Homo sapiens: one gene and its partners. The protein of the gene in region 1 interacts with the protein of each later gene in a pairwise test. Each region holds a gene or a part of one and is shown in the gene's direction. Other genes may lie near its edges.

The links.
Region 2: the proteins of TMEM51 (region 1) and TMIE interact in a two-hybrid assay, tested with the Homo sapiens proteins (one large-scale study listed by BioGRID).
Region 3: the proteins of TMEM51 (region 1) and CLCA4 interact in a two-hybrid assay, tested with the Homo sapiens proteins (one large-scale study listed by BioGRID).
Region 4: the proteins of TMEM51 (region 1) and TSNARE1 interact in a two-hybrid assay, tested with the Homo sapiens proteins (one large-scale study listed by BioGRID).

What each region holds. Positions count from the first base shown.
Region 1 is NC_000001.11:15,159,814-15,164,060, forward strand, and holds part of TMEM51 (transmembrane protein 51), read left to right. Parts: intron 1-4,247.
Region 2 is NC_000003.12:46,707,745-46,711,989, forward strand, and holds the end of TMIE (transmembrane inner ear expressed protein isoform 1 precursor), read left to right. Parts: intron 1-1,381; coding exon 1,382-1,531; intron 1,532-1,834; coding exon 1,835-1,944; 3' UTR 1,945-3,142; downstream 3,143-4,245. UniProt on the Homo sapiens protein: Auxiliary subunit of the mechanotransducer (MET) non-specific cation channel complex located at the tips of stereocilia of cochlear hair cells and that mediates sensory transduction in the auditory system.
Region 3 is NC_000001.11:86,553,235-86,557,481, forward strand, and holds part of CLCA4 (calcium-activated chloride channel regulator 4 precursor), read left to right. Parts: intron 1-4,247. UniProt on the Homo sapiens protein: May be involved in mediating calcium-activated chloride conductance.
Region 4 is NC_000008.11:142,214,453-142,218,500, reverse strand, and holds part of TSNARE1 (t-SNARE domain-containing protein 1), read left to right. Parts: intron 1-4,048.

The sequences.
Region 1 (4,247 bases):
GCATGAACCACCACACCTAGCCTTCTTCTTTTTTTAATGTCCCCAGAGCTTTACCAATGGAAGCTTCCCAGGCCCATCCCCTGGCCTGAGAGGCCTTTGAGATGATAAGCCCAGGGTCACCAAATCCTGGCAGAACCTGGCAGAATGAGAACTCACCACAGGGAGCAAGTTCTTTTTTTTAAGATCGTGGACTCACATGATGTGCAGTTCTGGATGTCTCCAGGAGGTTTTGCTATTTCCTCAACAGGTAAAATTAGGTGGCTCTAAATCTTGGGCAATTTTATGTCTTTTCCATGTTTTTCTCCTCACATGTGGTCTAGGGAGGGGTGTAGAGAAGCAGGTGGAATTTACTTGCCTTACCTTATCCTACCTTTTCCTGGAACCCACAGGTTGGGCCTGTGCTGGTTAGGGTGTGGGGCATGATTTGTTGATATTTGGTGAGGGAAAATGACTTTATTTTATTTTATTTATTTCTTTTGAGACAGAGTGTCACTCTGTTGCCCAGGCTGGAGTGCAGTGGTGCAATCTTGGCTCACTGCAACCTCTGCCTCCTGGATTCAAGCAATTCTCTTGCCTCAGCCTCCTGAGTAGCTGGGATTACAGGTGCATGCCACCACGCCCGGCCAATTTTTGTATTTTTAATAGAGATAGGGTTTCACCATGTTGGCCAAGCTGGTCTTGAACTCCTGACCTCAAGTGATCCACCTGCCTCAGCCTCTCAAAGTGCTAGGATTACAGGCGTGAGCCACCACACCCAGCAAGAACATGATTTTAAAAAACAAAACAAACACTCAAACTTTCTTAAGTTACCATAAGAGGCCTCACATACAGCTTCCTTAAAACTGCCTGCAATTTGGAGAGAAGCAGTTAGGTACTGGAACTGCCTGTGGGTAATTATTGTTTTCAAACAGTGACAGATGCAAATTCTCTTCTTTTGGGGGAAATTGCCTGTAGCTAAACACCGGCGCCATCACTTTAAACAAATCTCCTGATACATATGGTATGCCAGGCGCTGAGCCCAGGAACGAGGGAGAGTCAGCCCCCGCCCCCCACCCCGATGGAGCTGATCCCCCACGGGAGGCAGCAGGGATTGTACCTTAACAACATGTGAATAAAGATGAGGAAGCACAGCCCGTGAAGGAGGAGGCTTAACCCAAACTTGGAGAGTCAGGAAGGATTTTCAGAAAGAGTGCAGTCTGAGCTGAAATGGGGAGCGGGGAGGGCAGGTGCAGCCGCCACCGCCAAAGGTCTTCCTGGTGGAGGCAACTGCCTGTGCAAAGGCCTCAAGGTGTAAAAGAGCTTCGTTAACACAGGCCAATACTGAGTGTAGAAACGCTGCACTCAGGGCAGATGCTGAAGGCAGAGGTGGAAAAAGTATTTTATATAGTTTCTTCTTAAAAGTCATTTTGGGGGCTGGGCATGGTGGCTCATACCTGTAATCCCAGCACTTTGGGAGGCCAAAGCAGGTGGATTGCTTGAGGTCAGGAGTTCACGACTAGCCTGGCCAACATGGTGAAACCCCATCTCTACTAAAAATAGAAAAATTACCCGGTATGGTGGCAGGTGCCTGTAATCCCAGCTACTCAGGAGGCTGACCACAGGAATCGCTTGAACCTGGAAAGCAGAGGTTGCAGTGAGCCGAGATCGTGCCACTGAACTCCAGCCTGGGCAACAGAGTGAGACTCATCTCAAAAAAACAAAAGTCATTTTTCTCAAAAAATTAAAATCGAATAACCATAGGATCCAGCAGTTTCACTTCTGGGTGCATACTTGTCTTAGTCCATTTGTGTTGCTGTAAAGAAATACCTGAGATTGGGTAATTTATAAAGAAAAGAGATTTATTGGCCGGGCGCAGTGGCTCACGCCGGTAATCCCAGCACTTTGGGAAACCGAGGCAGGCAGATCACGAGATCGAGACCATCCTGGCCAACATGGTGAAACCCAGTCTTTACTAAAAATACAAAAATTAGCCAGGCATGGTGGCGGGCACCTGTAGTCCCAGCTACTCAGGAGGCTGAGGCAGAAGAATGGCTTGAACCCGGGAGGCGGAGGTTGCAGTGAGCCGAGATGGAGCCACTGCACTCCAGCCTAGCGACAGAGCAAGACTCCATCTCAAAAAAAGAGAGAAAGAGGTTTATTTAGCCCATGGCATCTCAGATGCATCAGCATCTGCTTCTAGTGAGGGCCTCGGGCAGAAGGACAGCAGGCGTCATGTGGTGAGAGAGAAGAGGAGAGAAGGAGTGGGGAGCAGACTCTTTAACAACCAGATCTTTGGGCACCAAGCCATTCAAGAGGGATCCACTCCCAACAACCAAACACCCACTAGGCCCCACCTCCAACATTGGGGATCAAATTTCTCTTCTTTTTTTGAGACAGTCTTACTCTGTTGCCCAGACTGGAGTGCAGTGGCACAATCTTGGCTCACTGCAAACTCTGCCTCCTGGGTTCATGCGATTCTCATGCCTCAGCTTCCCAAGTAGCTGGGATTACAGGCATGTGCCACCATGTCCAGCTAATTTTTGTATTTTTAGTAGAGATGGGGTTTCACCATGTTGGCCAAGCTGGTCTTGAACTCCTGGCCTCGAGTGATCCACATGCCTCGGCCTCCCAAATTGCTGGGATTACAGGCATGGCCACCGCATCCAGCCTGGGGATCAAATTTCAACATGAGATTTGGAGAGGACCAATATCCAAACTATATCAATGCTCAAAAGAATTGAAAACAGGTTTTTGAAGAGATATTTGTACACCCATGTTTATATGAGCATTACTCATAATAGCTAAAATATGAAAACAACCCAAGTATCCATCAAAGGATGAATGAATAAACAAAATGTGGTCTATCCATACAGTGGAATATTATTCAGCCTCCATGTGGAAGGAAATTCTGACACCATGCTGCAACATGGACGAACCTTGAGGACATCATGCTAAGTGAAATAAGCCAGTCACAAAAAGACAGATACTATATGATTCTACTTGTATGAGGAATCTAGACATCATAGAAATGGAAAGTAGAATGTTGGTTGCCAGGGGCTGGGGGAAGAGGAATGGGGAGTTAGGGTTTAATGGGTAAGGGGTTTCAGTTTTGTAAAATGAAAGCGTTCTGTGAATGCATGATGGTGATGGTTGCACAGCAGTATGAATGTACTTAATGCCACTGAACTGTTCATGGAAAAATGGTTAAGATAGTCAACTTTATGTTATGTGCATTTTATCACACTAAAAAGTTGGTGGGTGGGGGAGTCATTTTGGAAACAAGACTCAGATAGTCATTTGGCCATATCATTGCGTTCTCTCTACAGACCAGGTGTTCTTCCAGGCTTTGGGGGGAAACGGTGCCTAAGACAGGCTCAGTTCCTGCCCTCTTGGAGCTTACACCTTATTAGGCAGCAGGGAGGAGTCAGTCAAGTAGGAAACCAACAAGTAAAATAACAAATCAATAACATGTCAAATGCACTGATCTGAAATCTTTGCCCCTTCCCTATGCTGGCAGGATCAAGCCAAAGCTAAGCTCTTTAACTTTCAACACTATAAAGCCCGGACTTCTTAGAGTCAGCCTCTGTTAATCTTTTCAGACCTATTACTGCTGCCTTACCCCAACTTCAACTGCATCAGTCACAAGGAACTACTTTCCACCCCCACCTACCTCGTACCCCTGCTCAAAGCCAGGAACTTTGGCGGCTTTTTTCCTTCCTGTTCTTTCTGCTTTTCTTTCTAGACTGCCCAGAGGCTTTAGAAAACACCATAATTTCAATTCTAGAAGTTTATCCTAAGAAAACAGTTAATGAGTATAAGGAGTTAGTTTCGAGACTGTTATTTTTTGTAATAATAGCAACAAAATTAGAAAGCCATTTTGTTTTTAATCTGTCCAGAGATGGTCCTAGCCACGACCCTTTAAATAAATTTTTGTTTAATTTTGGAATAATTTTAGATTTATAGAAAAGTTGCAAAGGTAATATGGGGCATTTTTGTCTACCCTTCACCCAACTTCCCCTAATGTTGGCTTTTTTTGGGGGGGGGGAGGGGGGAGGGGACAAAGTCTCACTCTGTTACCCAGGCTGGAGTACAGTGGCGTGGTCTCGGCTCACAGCAACCTCCACCTCCTGGGGTCAAGTGATTCTCCTGCCTCAGCCTCCCGAGTAGCTGGGATTTACAGGCATGCACCACCATGCCTGGCTAATTTTTGTATTTTTAGTAGAGACAGGGTTTCACCATGTTGGCCAGGCTGGTCTTGAACTCCTGAC
Region 2 (4,245 bases), on another chromosome or scaffold:
GCTGCCGTCAGTGGCCCACTGAGCTCCTTAGGAAGCCCCAGCCTCCCGGGGCCTGGGACCAGCCTGCATGGAGCCTGAGTGGGCATAGTCCCAAGGAGGTTCCTGGTGGGGTGGCTAGAAGAGGTGGCCTAAGCCGGGAGGGTTAGGATTGGGTACCAACTTCGAGTCTCAGGCATGAACACAGGTTCTGGAGAAATCCAGGACCCAGCTTCTTGGATAAGGCCTGCTGTCTGCTCAGGTCCACCCCTGGACAGTCGGATCTATAGCTGGGGCCCTTGTGCAGCACCCTCCTCCAAGTGTATGCCTGGATGCTATTGGCTCCCCAATTCATTCACTCTAGTCCAGTCCTGTTCCCAACAGCAAAGGCTTTGAGATCATCCCATTCATTCATTCATTGATTTTTTTCTTTTATTCTGAGCCTGGGTGAGACCTAGTAGGACCACAATATTTGTCTGAAGGGGTTCTGACTTGGTTGCATAAAATGACCCCAGAAGGTACTCCAGTCCAGGCTACATAGATCTGATCCATCTTCCCCAAAATAGACCTGGTTAATCCTCCGTGGGCCCTTCTGCCCCCAGGAGTCTGCCAGGAAGTTATGTCTGGTCATCTGATTTATAATAGGAACCAGCTCCATCCCCTCCTCTAGGGCTGGGGCCAAGGTGGTCAGGCTGTGGGGGCCTTAGGAAAATAAACTCAGTCCAGCCAGGTCCTGGCAGCCCTAACCTGCCCTACCCATCCCTAGACAGGCCAGCTCCATGACCTGGCCCAACTGGCGTGGGTGCAGCTGCCCTCAGCCGGAAAACCACTCCTGAAATAACTCCGTCTGAGGTGAATGCCTCAGGGCAGGGTCTGTGCCCTCTCATGGGCTCCCGCCCTAGCCAGGGAGAGCCCAGGGATGTCCTCAGGGAGGCTGAGGAGGACATGCAGAGCCACGTCCTCTCATGACTGAGGCAACTTTGGCCTAGCTCTCAGTGGTGTGGGAAGGAGAAGCTAAGTTGCACACCCGGAGGCCTGGGTTGGAAGTGCTGGATGGCCCCCAGGAAGCTATGGCTTAAGTCATGGTGCAGACCTCTGCCTTACCCTCCAGTGACTCTCAGTCTAGTCAGAAAGACCCTCAGGACCAGGACTGGTGACATAATTTAGCCAGGGTCCCTTCCAAGCACGGGGGCCTGTGCAGCTGCATGAAGTCAGCCCTGCTTAGGAAAGCCACCTTGGTCATCATAGGGTCCACAGGGGTTTTGTCAAGATGCTGAGCCTCCTGCCAGGGTCTGGTGGGTGAGACACATGTGGGTGGATGGGGGCGGGCCTGAAGGAAGGCGGATGCCATTCCTTGGGTCTCTGAACCCCAGCCCCAGCCAAGCCTGCTCTGTCCTCCCTACAGTCATCACGCTGTGCTGTGTCTTCAACTGTCGTGTGCCACGGACCCGGAAGGAGATCGAAGCCCGGTACCTGCAGCGAAAGGCAGCCAAGATGTACACAGACAAGCTGGAGACTGTGCCACCCCTCAATGAGCTCACAGAAGTCCCAGGAGGTGAGTTGGCCCTGGCTTGAGCCCTGCTGCGCCAGCCAGTTCCTCAGTCCTGCTGCCTGGAGTCACCCTGTTCCTCTGCTCCAACCAAAGCAGGTTCAGGGAGGGGCCCCAGCCCTGCCCCTGGAGACCAGAGCACAGAAATTGGTTGGCATGAGGCAAATAGAACGATGAGCCTATTCTCCAGTAGGAAGAAGGAAGAAAAAGGCAGAGTGTAGGAGGTTCTGGGGCTCTTCCCCTCAGGACAGTCAGACCCCAGGACCTTGTCTCACCACTATCACATGGTCTCTTCCCCCTGCCCCACAGAGGATAAGAAGAAGAAGAAGAAGAAGAAGAAGGACAGTGTGGACACAGTGGCCATCAAAGTAGAGGAGGATGAGAAGAATGAGGCCAAGAAGAAGAAAGGAGAGAAATGAAGACATCCTGGGCAGCTTGGGCTGGCGGGCCCTGGAGCTCAAGCCGTGGCCGGGGTCCAGGCATGTTGGACTCTGAGCTCATTTGGGGACCACAGAGGCTGTGGTCAGAGAGGGAAGCTGAGGCCCATGGCCACATCCTCATGGCCCATCAGGGGCAGGAACCAGACAATCTCGTAGGTGTCCTGCCCCCCAGCCTAGGCTTGGCTCCTTTCACCCCATCCACATGGGTACTGTCTCGGCAGAGGTGGTCTGGTGCCACCGTCCCTCTGCAGATACACTGCTCTCCCCACCCAGACCTGCCTGTCTCCCACCCTTTCTGCCAGGGATGGCAGTGGCTGTGAAGGAGTAATGGGATATGGGGTTACTTCAGCCACCCTTTCTGGCACGAAATGGCTGAAGTGCATGGGTCAGGGTGTGAGGCCACACCCAGAGTAGCCATGAGGAGGCAGAGAGGGTCACTGGGGGACACTGTGGCAGCAGGAGGGACTCTGTCTGGCCAGGGAGGAGCCCCAGTGGTGAGAAGACTTCCCCAAGCCTGGCAGGGGATCCAGCTCAAGGGAGTAAGTAGAGGTGGCTTCAGAAATGGAACCCCCAGCCCAGCAGACATCAAGCTCAAGGCAATGGGCTACCCTCATTTCACACGTTGTGATGAAGCTGAGGCTGCTGCCAGGCCCGGCATGAGGCCCCGAGGCTCGAGCTCGGGGCTGGGGGCTGCAGGGCTGGGTCAGGGGTACACAGAGCTAAGGCCAATGGGCTAGAGGGTGCCGGAAAGAGAGCTGGAGTCTGGGCTCCTCTTGGGAATCAGAGTATATTTAAGAAGCCAAGGGGGACCTCGGGCTGTTCTGGTGGCCCCTTCTATGCCCAGCTGTGCTGGGAGGTCCCAGGGCCCTAGAAGATCACAGCAGGGCCTTCTGCCTGCTGACCATAACAGTGCCAGCTTCTTTGCAGCTTCCTCTTCTACCATTTCCCACTACGGGCACCTAAAAGAAGCATCTCTGACCAGAAGACAAAGGCCCAAATAGCACCTGGGGGAGGGAAGATGCACAGAGGCACTTCCAGATGGCATCGAACAGACTAAGGCTCTGAAACCTAGGCCTGAACACTAAGGTCTCGAGACACCAGAGGTTTCTGAGCCAGGAGAGCCTGCTGGAAAAGCAGCCTGCAGAGATTTGTGAATAAAGCTGATTGCCTTCTCAGAGCCAGGCCTAGAAAATGGCCTCCTGAGATGACCCCTCAGGATGCGCTATTCCTGGGGCATTTATGTGGAGGGTGATGCAGCAGTCAGTGACAGATGGCTCAGGCCAGGCCAAAGTCCCCTCCCTGACTCTTCTGCCAGCCTGAATTAGGATGAGATAGAGGGAGAAATGGGAGCCAAGAGGCTGAGGGGCAGCTGCAGTCACCTGGGCCCATCCCGGAGGCAGGCACAGGACTCGGGAGGGACGCTGCCAGCTCTCTGGGTGCTGAGTTCACAAGGCTGCATTCATGATTTTCAATAGACCTGTGATGGTCTGTGCCCAGTGCTGGGGACACAGAAGAGTCAAACCTGGCTCCTGACCTGGACCTGGATCATCACTGTACAGGGAGGAGAGTGATCCAGGCTGATGAGGAAAGCGCATGACATGGGGTCTTAGGAGCAGTGAGGGGCAGAGCCATGGCCAAAGGCCCCGCCATGGAAGCTGAGGACTCTGACACCAGATGGAGGCAGTTGACCGACCTCTGCCCTTGGGGTCCAACCCATGGGCTTCTCATACATAGGGGTGAAAAAGGCCATTCTATTTATGCAGAATTTTCCCATGTGGCCAGGCAGCAGAAGTCCAGAGGGGTAGGGGCCACTCAGGGTCACACAGAGCAGCAGTTGCTGAAGACTGGGGAAGTCCAGGCCTAGGCTCCACCTGCCCTTCCCCTGACATGGGGCCACCACTAGCCTTTTATGGGCAGGCCTGGCTGCTGGTGGTTGGAATAACATCTGACTCCAGTGGGTGTCTGTCACTGTCTCCAGACAGGAGACAGAGACAGAGGGTCAAAGTTCACTATGGCTCTTTGGGGCAATGAAATGCTGTGTTCTAGCCTCTTGCCAGAAATCAGCCAAAGTCAAGGAAAGCCCGACTCCCACAGTTATCACAGAAAGAGCACCCACTTTCCAGCCCAGACAGCTGCACCCCAGCTGGGTCCTGGCAGCCCCAGCTTCAGCCTGGGCGGTATGTTCCAGGCCCCTCGATCATCTGACCCTAATATCACCCCTTCACACCCCCTCCACCTTCTGCGGGAGCCACCCCGAACCTTTGAATGGGGGAGATCCTG
Region 3 (4,247 bases), about 71 Mb from region 1:
GGACTGCCGCTGCAAGCTGTACGAGGACACGGTCTTCAAGCCGGCCAGGGCTCCCTCCACGTCTTCCTGGTGGCCAACACGTTTCCCCTTCAGTCCTCGTGCAAACATTGTGTCTTTGAGAGAACGGTTATCTGGGTCCTGCCGTCTCGTGCATCCCACACGAAGGCCACAGAAGAGGCGAGGCAGCAGAGATCCTCTATTCCAGCAAGCTGTCGAAGCCTTTGTCACGACGATCCTGTCCGACCCGCGAGTCTGCCCGCTGGGTCCTCTGCTCAGCCGACGCCACCGCCGCTGCCGCCTGCTTCCCGCCGCTCAGGGAGGAGCGCCCGCCAGCGCGGGGCCTTTACCCTTTTAAAACAATCAACTCTGCTTAGGAAACTAGCCATAGTTTTACTTCCCATAAAAAGCTTATGTGTCGGCCCGGGCATGGTGACTCACGTCTGTAATCCCAGCACTTTGGGAGGCTGAGGCGGGTGGATCACCTGAGGTCAGGAGTTCGAGACCAGCCTGGCCAACATTGCGAAACCCTCTCTCTACTAAAAAATACAAAAATTAGCTGGGCCCAGTGGCAGGCGCCTGTAATTCCAGCTACTCGAGAGGTCGAGGCAGGAGAATCGCTTGAACCCGGGAGGCGGAGGTTGCAGTAAGCCAAGATTGAGACATTGAACTCCAGCCTGGGAGACAGAGCAAGACTCTGTCCAAAAAAAAAAGTTTGTGTGTCAATGTATGACCCATAGTGTCTTCTTTTCTTTTCTTTTTTAACTTTTATTTTGGGTTCAGGGGTACATGTGAAGGTTTGTTGCATAGGTAAACTCATGCCATGGGGGTTTGTTGTACAGATTACTTCATCACCAGGTATTAAGCCTAGTACCCAATATTATCTTTCTGTTCCTCTCCTTCCTCCCAACCTCCACCCCCACTCTCAAGTAGACCCCAGTGTCTCTTGTTCTCTTCTTTGTGTTCATGAGTTCTCATCATTTACCTCCCATTATAAGTGAGAACATGTAGTATTTGGGTTTCTATTCCTGTGTTAGTTTGCTAAGGATAATAGCCTACAGCTCCACCCATGTTCCCGCAAAAGACATGATCTCATTCTTTTTTATGGCTGTGTAGTATTCCATGGTGTATATGTACCACAGTTTTTGTTTGTTTGTTTGTTTTGAGACAGAGTCTCCCTCTGTCACCATGCCCAGCTAATTTTTGTATTTTTAGTAGAGATGGGGTTTCACCATGTTGCACAGGCTGGTCTCGAACTCCTGACCCGAAGTGATCTGCCCACCGCGGCCTCCCAAGGTGCTGGGATTACAGGTGTGAGCCACCATGCCCGGCCCTGTACCACAATTTTTAATCCAATCTGTTATTGATGGGCATTTAGGTTGATTCCATGTCTTTGCTATTGTGAATAGTGCTGCTACAAACATTCAAGTGCATGTGTGTCTTTCTGGTGGAATGATTTATATTCCTCTGAGTGTATATCCAGTAATGGGATTGCTGGGTTGAATGGTAGTTCTGCTTTTAGCTCTTTGAGGAATCACCATATTGCTTTCCACAGTGGTTGAACTAATTTACACTCCCATCAACAATGTATAAGTGTTCCCTTTTCTCCTCAACCTCGCAAGCATCTGGTTTTTTTTTTTTTTACTTTTTAATAATAGCCATTCTAACTGGTATGAGATGATATCTCATGGTGGGTTTTTTTGTGTGTGTGTTTCTTTAATGATCAGTGATACTGAGCTTTTTTTCACTTGCTTGTTGGCCACATGTCTATCTTCTTTTGAAATGCATCTGTTCATGTCCTTTGCCCACTTTTTAATGCATTGTTTGTTTTTCTCTTGTAAATTTGTTTACATTCCTTTTAAATGCTGGATATTAGACCGGTGTTGGACGCATAATTTGCAAATATTTTCTTCTATTCTGTAGGTTGTCTGTTTACTCTGTTGATAGTTCCTTTTGCTGTGCACAAGCTCTTAAGTTTAATTAGATTCCACTTGTCAATTTTTGCTTTTGTTGCAATTGTTTTAGGCATCTTTGTTATAAAATCTTTGCCTATGTCCAGGATGTATTGCCTAGGCTGTCTTCTAGGGTTTTTATAGTTTTCAGTTTTACATTTAAGTCTTTAATCTTAATCTTGAGTTGATTTTTATACATGGTGTAAGGAAGGGATCCAGCTTCAATCTGCATATGGTTAGCCAGTTATCCCAGCACCATTGATTTAATAGGGAATCTTTTCCCCATTGCTTGTTTTTGTCAGCTTTGTTGAAGATTAGATGGTGGTGGATGTGCAGCCTTATTTCTGGGCTCTCTGTTGTGTTCTGTTGGTCTAGGCCTGTTTTTATACCAGTACCATGCTCTTTGGGTTACTGCATCCCTGTAGTGTAGTTTGAAATCAGGTAACATGATGCCTCCAGTTTTGTTCTTTTTGCTTAAGATTGCCTTGGCTGTTCAGGCTCTTTTTTATTCCATATGAATTTTAAAATAGTTTTTTTCTAGTGGTGTGAAAAATGTTGTTGCTAGTTTGATAGGAATAGCAATGAATCTATAAATTGCTTTGGGCAATATAACCATTTTAGTGATATTGATTCTTCCTATCGATGAGCATGGGATGTTTTCCATTAGTTTGTGTCTTCTCTGACACAATTTCTTTGAGCAGTGTTTTGTAATTCTCATTGTAGGAATGTTTCACCTCCCTGGTTAGCTGTATTCCTAGGTATTTTATTCTTTTTGTGGCAATTGTGAATGGTATTGCCTATTCGATTCAGCTCTGGACTTAGCTGTCATTGGTGTAGAGGAAGGCTAGTGATTTTTGTACATTGATTTTGTATGCTGAAACTTTGCTGAAGCTATTCATCAGCTGAGGGAGCTTTTGGGCTGAGACTATGGGGTTTTCTAGATATAGAATTATGTCATAATCAAAGAGGGATAGTTTGACTCCCTCTCTTCCTATTTGGATGCCCTTTATTTATTTCTCTTGCCTGATTGCTCTGGCCAGGACTTCCAATATTAAGTTGAATAGGAGTGGTGAGAGACAGCATCCTTGTCTTGTGCCAGTTTTCAAAGAGAATGCTTCCAGCTTTTGCCCATTCAGTATAATGTTGGCTATGGGTTTGTCATAGATGGCTCTCATTATTTTGAGGTATTTTCCTTCAATACCTACGTTATTGTGGTGTTGAATTATATTGAAAACCTTTTCTCCATCTCCTGAGATAATCATGTGGTTTTTGTCTTTAGTCCTGTTTATGTGATGAATCACTTTTATTGATTTGTGTATGTTGAATCAATCTTGCGTCCTGGAGATGATGCTTACTTGATCATGGTGGATTTGCTTTTTGGTGAGCTGCTGGATTCGGTTTGCCAGTATTTTGTTGAGAATTTTTGCATCAATGTTCATAAAGGATATTGGCCTGAAGTTTTCTTTTTTTGTTGGGTCTCTGTCAGGTTTTCATATCAGATTGATACTGGCCTCATAGAATGAGTTGGAGAGGATCCCTCCCTCCTCAAATTTTTGGAATAGTTTCAGTAGGAATGGTACAAGCTCTTCTTTGTACATCTGGTAGAATTTGGCTGTGAATCCATAAGATCCTGGGCTTTGTTTGTTTGTTTGTTGTTTGTAGGCTCTTTATTACTAATTCAGTTTAGGAACTTGTTATTGGTCTGTTCAGGGAATCAATTTCTTCCTGATTCAGTCTTGGGAGATGTATGGGTCCAGGAATTTATCCATCTCTTCTAGGTTTTCTAGTTTGTGTCTTTAGAGGTGTTCATAGTAGTTTCTGATGGTTATTTTTATTTCTGAGGGGTCAGCATTAACATTCCCTTCATTATTTCCAATCCTGTTTATTTGGACCTTCTCTCTTTTCTTATTTATTAGTCTAGCTGGTAGCTAGTGGCATATATAGCTTATAAATTTTTTCAAAAATTAGATCCTGGATTTGTTGATCTTTTGAGTGGTTTTTTGTGTCTCATTTTCTCATTTTCCTTCAGTTCAGCTCTGATTTTGATTATTTCTGGTCTTCTGCTAGCTTTGGGGTTGATTTGTTCTTGCTCCTCTAATTCCTTCAGTTGTAATGTTAGGTTGTTAATTTCGGATCTTTCTAACTTTTTGATGTGGGTATTTAATGCTATAAATTTCCCTCTTAAAACTGTCTTAGCTGTGTCCCAGGGATTCTGGTATGTTGTATATTTGTTCTTATTAGTTTTGAAGAACATCTTGATTTCTGCTTTAATTTTATTATTTACCAAAACAAAAGTCA
Region 4 (4,048 bases), on another chromosome or scaffold:
GACATTGGCAGTGAGCTGAGGGATGGGCACTGTTCCCAACCAGACCAGGCTCTGAGTGGTCTGTGCTCCAAGAAGGCCTAGAAACCCACACAGTGAAGCTCCAGGGAGCCCACAAAGTGGTCTGGCCCTCGTGGTGCCTCAACAGGCAGCTCTCCAGGGTGGACACTGGATATGACCTGGTCACACGCTGAGCCCTGACCCTGGCCACACCCTGAGCCCTGACCCTGGCCACACCCTGAGCCTGATCCCGGTCACACTGAACCCAGATCTTGGTCACACGTTAAGCCCTGACTCTGGTCACACTCTGAGTCCTGATCCTGGTCACACTGAGGCCTGACCCTGGCCACACACTGAGCCTGATCCTGGTCACACGGAGCCCTGATCCTGGTCACACACTGAGCCCTGACCTGGCCACTCTCTGAACCCTGATCCTGCTCACACTCTGAGCCCTGATCCTGGTCACATACTGGGCCCTGATCCTGGCCACACACTGAGCCCTGATCCTGCTCATACTCTGAGCCCTGATCCTGGTCACACACTGAGCCCTGATCCTGCTCATACTCTGAGCCCTGATCCTGTTCACACTCTGAGCCCTGATCCTGGTCACACACTGAGCCCTGATCCTGGCCACACACTGAGCCCTGATCCTGCTCACACACTGAGCCCTGATCCTGCTCACACCCTGAACGCTGATCCTGGCCACACCCTGAACGCTGATCCTGGTCACAAACTAAGCTCTGATCCTGGTCACACACTGACCCTAATTCTAGTTACATTTTGAGCCCTGACCTTGGTCACAGGCTGAACCTAAACCTGGCTATGGACTAGCCCTGACCCTTCATTGATGAGGCCAGAAAGCATGGTGCATGCACACTGTTTCCCTGGAGCAAAAAGTTGATGCTGACGTAGCTGAAGTGAGTAGGTCAGAGTCACCTTTTAGGTGATAAACCCAGTTCAAGGGCTCACCCCTGCCCATGACCACCTGCCCCTGCCTGCCTGCTGGCTCTCGCCTCTGGCCAGCATTCAAGATCTCAGCACCATGGACAGCAGCAGAGGGGCCCAAGCCTCTTGTGGGGTCAGCCATTCCTTACGCCGTTGCTTGCTTGCTTTTTCTTTCTTTCCCTTTTTTCTTTCTTTCTTTCTTTCTTTCTTTCTTTCTTTCTTTCTTTCTTTCTTTCTTTCTTTCTTTCTTTCTTTTTCTTTCTTTCTTTCTTCTTTTTATTTTATTATTTTATTTTATTTTATTATTTTATTTTTGAGACAGAGTCTTGCTCTGTTGCCCAGGTTGGAGTGCAGTGGCCCTATCTCGGCTCACTGCAACCTCCACCTCCCAGGGTTCAAGTGATTCTCTTGCCTCAGCCTCCTGAGTAGCTGGGATTACAGGCATGTGCCACCATGCCTTGCTAATTTTTTGTATTTTTAGTAGAGTCAAGGTTTCACTGTGTTAGCCAGGATAGTCTTGATCTCCTGACCTCGTGATCTGCCTGCCTCGGCCTCCCAAAGTGCTGGGATTACAGGTGTGAGCCACCGCGCCCGGTCCTTAGGCAGTTTCTCCACGACTGTTCACCTACCGTCTCCTCTCCCTGTTTCATCTCCCCTCTGATGGGGGCTGAAACCCCGGTTCCCCTGCTGTCTGGTGTCCAGCCCAGTGTGGGGCCCAGGGATGTCCGAGGCAGATTTGTCGACTGAGAGGAGGATAAACAACCAGGCAGGGTCGGTGCCAAGTATCTGCCCATTTTACAGATATGAGGACAGCTCAGAGGGGTTGATCCTTGCCAAGGACTTTGGGCCGGCCTGAGTCTGTGCCTCTGCTCGTCCCCCACCCCAGGCTTTGCTCCTCTCAGGCAGGAGGGAGAGGATGGAGTGAGGCAGAGCCCTGTGCCCCGTGCCCAGGCTGCTGACCAGTGCGGGGAGGGGTGGGGTGGGACAGGGGGTGCTATGCTGCTGTGCCAGGCCGGGAGGCCGACACCCTCCAGCCTCATCTCCCTGAGAGCCAATTTCCATAACCCTGCAGTAGCATCTTCCTGGAGACCCCTCTTGGGCCCCCGAGCGTGTGGCCAGAGGACGCCAGAGCCCAGGCAGCTCCTCAAGTCCCAGTGATTATACCTGTGCTACTCAGCTGATCAGGGAGAGCCCAGGCCTCATCCTTCCCAGCCCCACACCCCCAGCCCCTGCCTCTCTGCACTGCACCAGCGTCCGCCCATCTGTTCCAATCCAAAGATCTCCCCAGCAGCATTCATTTCAGTGCCATATGGCTGAGGCTCAGCCCTCAGAGGAGGGGCGGGGGCACCATGGCAGAGGTGGGAGCTTCTTCTACACCGGGCCCTGGGGGTGAAGAGACCCAGCTAGGGGTCTGGAGGAGCTGGGGCTGAGGGGCGGCAGGGAGTGGGGAAGGCTCATGGCTTGGGCCTAGAGGATGCCATGGGAACCTTTCCCCCTCAGATCTGCCCCATCACAGGGCCACTCAGCCGGCAGATGCCACATGCCATCTGCTGAGGCAGGCAGAGGCTGGGCTGAATTTGCACAGGGCCCGAGGGCCATCCATCCCTGTATCCCCAGCCAGGCCTCACCCCGAATTCCATGGCACCACAAAGCCAGCCTGGGGTGCAGGCGGAGGGTTGGCCCATTGACCTTCAAGCCTCCAGAGCTCAGGGGAATGTGGCCTGCACTAGATGCTGAAGGGCGTGTCCAGGCCCAGCTGGGTGGGGCTGAGCTGGCAGCCTCAGCAAAGGTGCCCACATGGGGCTGCCACTGCCAGCTGGCCTCTCACAGGTGTGTACTGGGTGGGGCAGGGACTTCCCTCCCAGGCTGCTGCCCCCTTGGCCTGCCCTTCCCCTCTCTCGGCTCAGTCTGCCCTCCAGGTGTGAGGGCAGGGAGGACTCCCTGGTAGGTCACGGGGGACAGCTCTCCTGGGGGTTCTCAGGTTCGAGGCTGGGCCCTGCTGCCCTGGCTTGGACAGAGTGTGTGTGGGGAGGCTGAGGGGTGGTGGTGGACAAGGGCAATGGATGAGACCCAGTTCCCAATCTTGGGGGACACATGTGGGGATGGGAGGGGCAGTTCTGGCCAGAAGATGGGGGCATCAGGCACTGCAAGGCTGCTCCCTGACCACCATTGCTGCCACCTCGCATTAGACCCTGTCCACTGACACCAGGACACTGCGTTGTGTTGAGGGGCACGCTGAGCACCACCATCCTTGGGGCGCCCCCACCCTCATCCCCAGGCAGCTAGGAAGTGGGGGGTGCCTCCGAACACAGCTGGATCCTGGTCTGGCAGTCACTCTGCCAGAGCAGTGCAGTGCCTGGGAGTTGGAAACAGCCGTGCACATCACAGATTTGTTCACTCGATCAATACGCATTCATGGTGTCCGTGCGGGCCCTGGCCTGGGCCCGGGGACACCTCTGTGGACACCTCCATGGACAGGACAGGTCTCTGCCTGCAGGTGCAACTGTCTGGCTAGGAGCATGGACAGAGTGTGATGAGGCCAGAGGTGAAGCCCCTGAGGTGGGAAGCGCTGGGGGAGGGAGCCCTTGTCGGTGAGGGGTCCTTATCAGCTCAGCTGCTGTAACCAAGCACCACAGGCGGCTTCTACCACAGAAGAAACTGCTCTTTGCCCTGGAGGCTGGAAGTCCCAGATCAGGGTGCCGCCAGGGCTGGGTTCTGATAGGGCCCTTCTGGGCTGCTGAGGGTGACCTCTCCTACATCCTCACGTGGCGGAGGGAGGGCGGGAGCTCTTGGGGCCTGGATCCCACCAGGAGGCTGCACCCTCAGGACCACGGCACTTCCCAGAGGCCCCACCCTTCACAGCATCACCCTGGGGGTTATTTTCGCCTTTGAGTTTTGGAGGAACACAAGCACTCAGACCGTAGCAGGGGCTGGAATGAGGCTGGTTGTGATTTTAAACAGGCCTCACCGAGAGTGGGGTGCAGGGAAAATCATTCCAGCAGAGGGAACAGCCCAGGCCCAGCGCAAGGTAGACCTTGGGCCTGGCAGAGCCCAGAGTTCTGGGCAGGAAGTGAGGGGCCAAGTTTTGGGGATGACTGGAGAACTA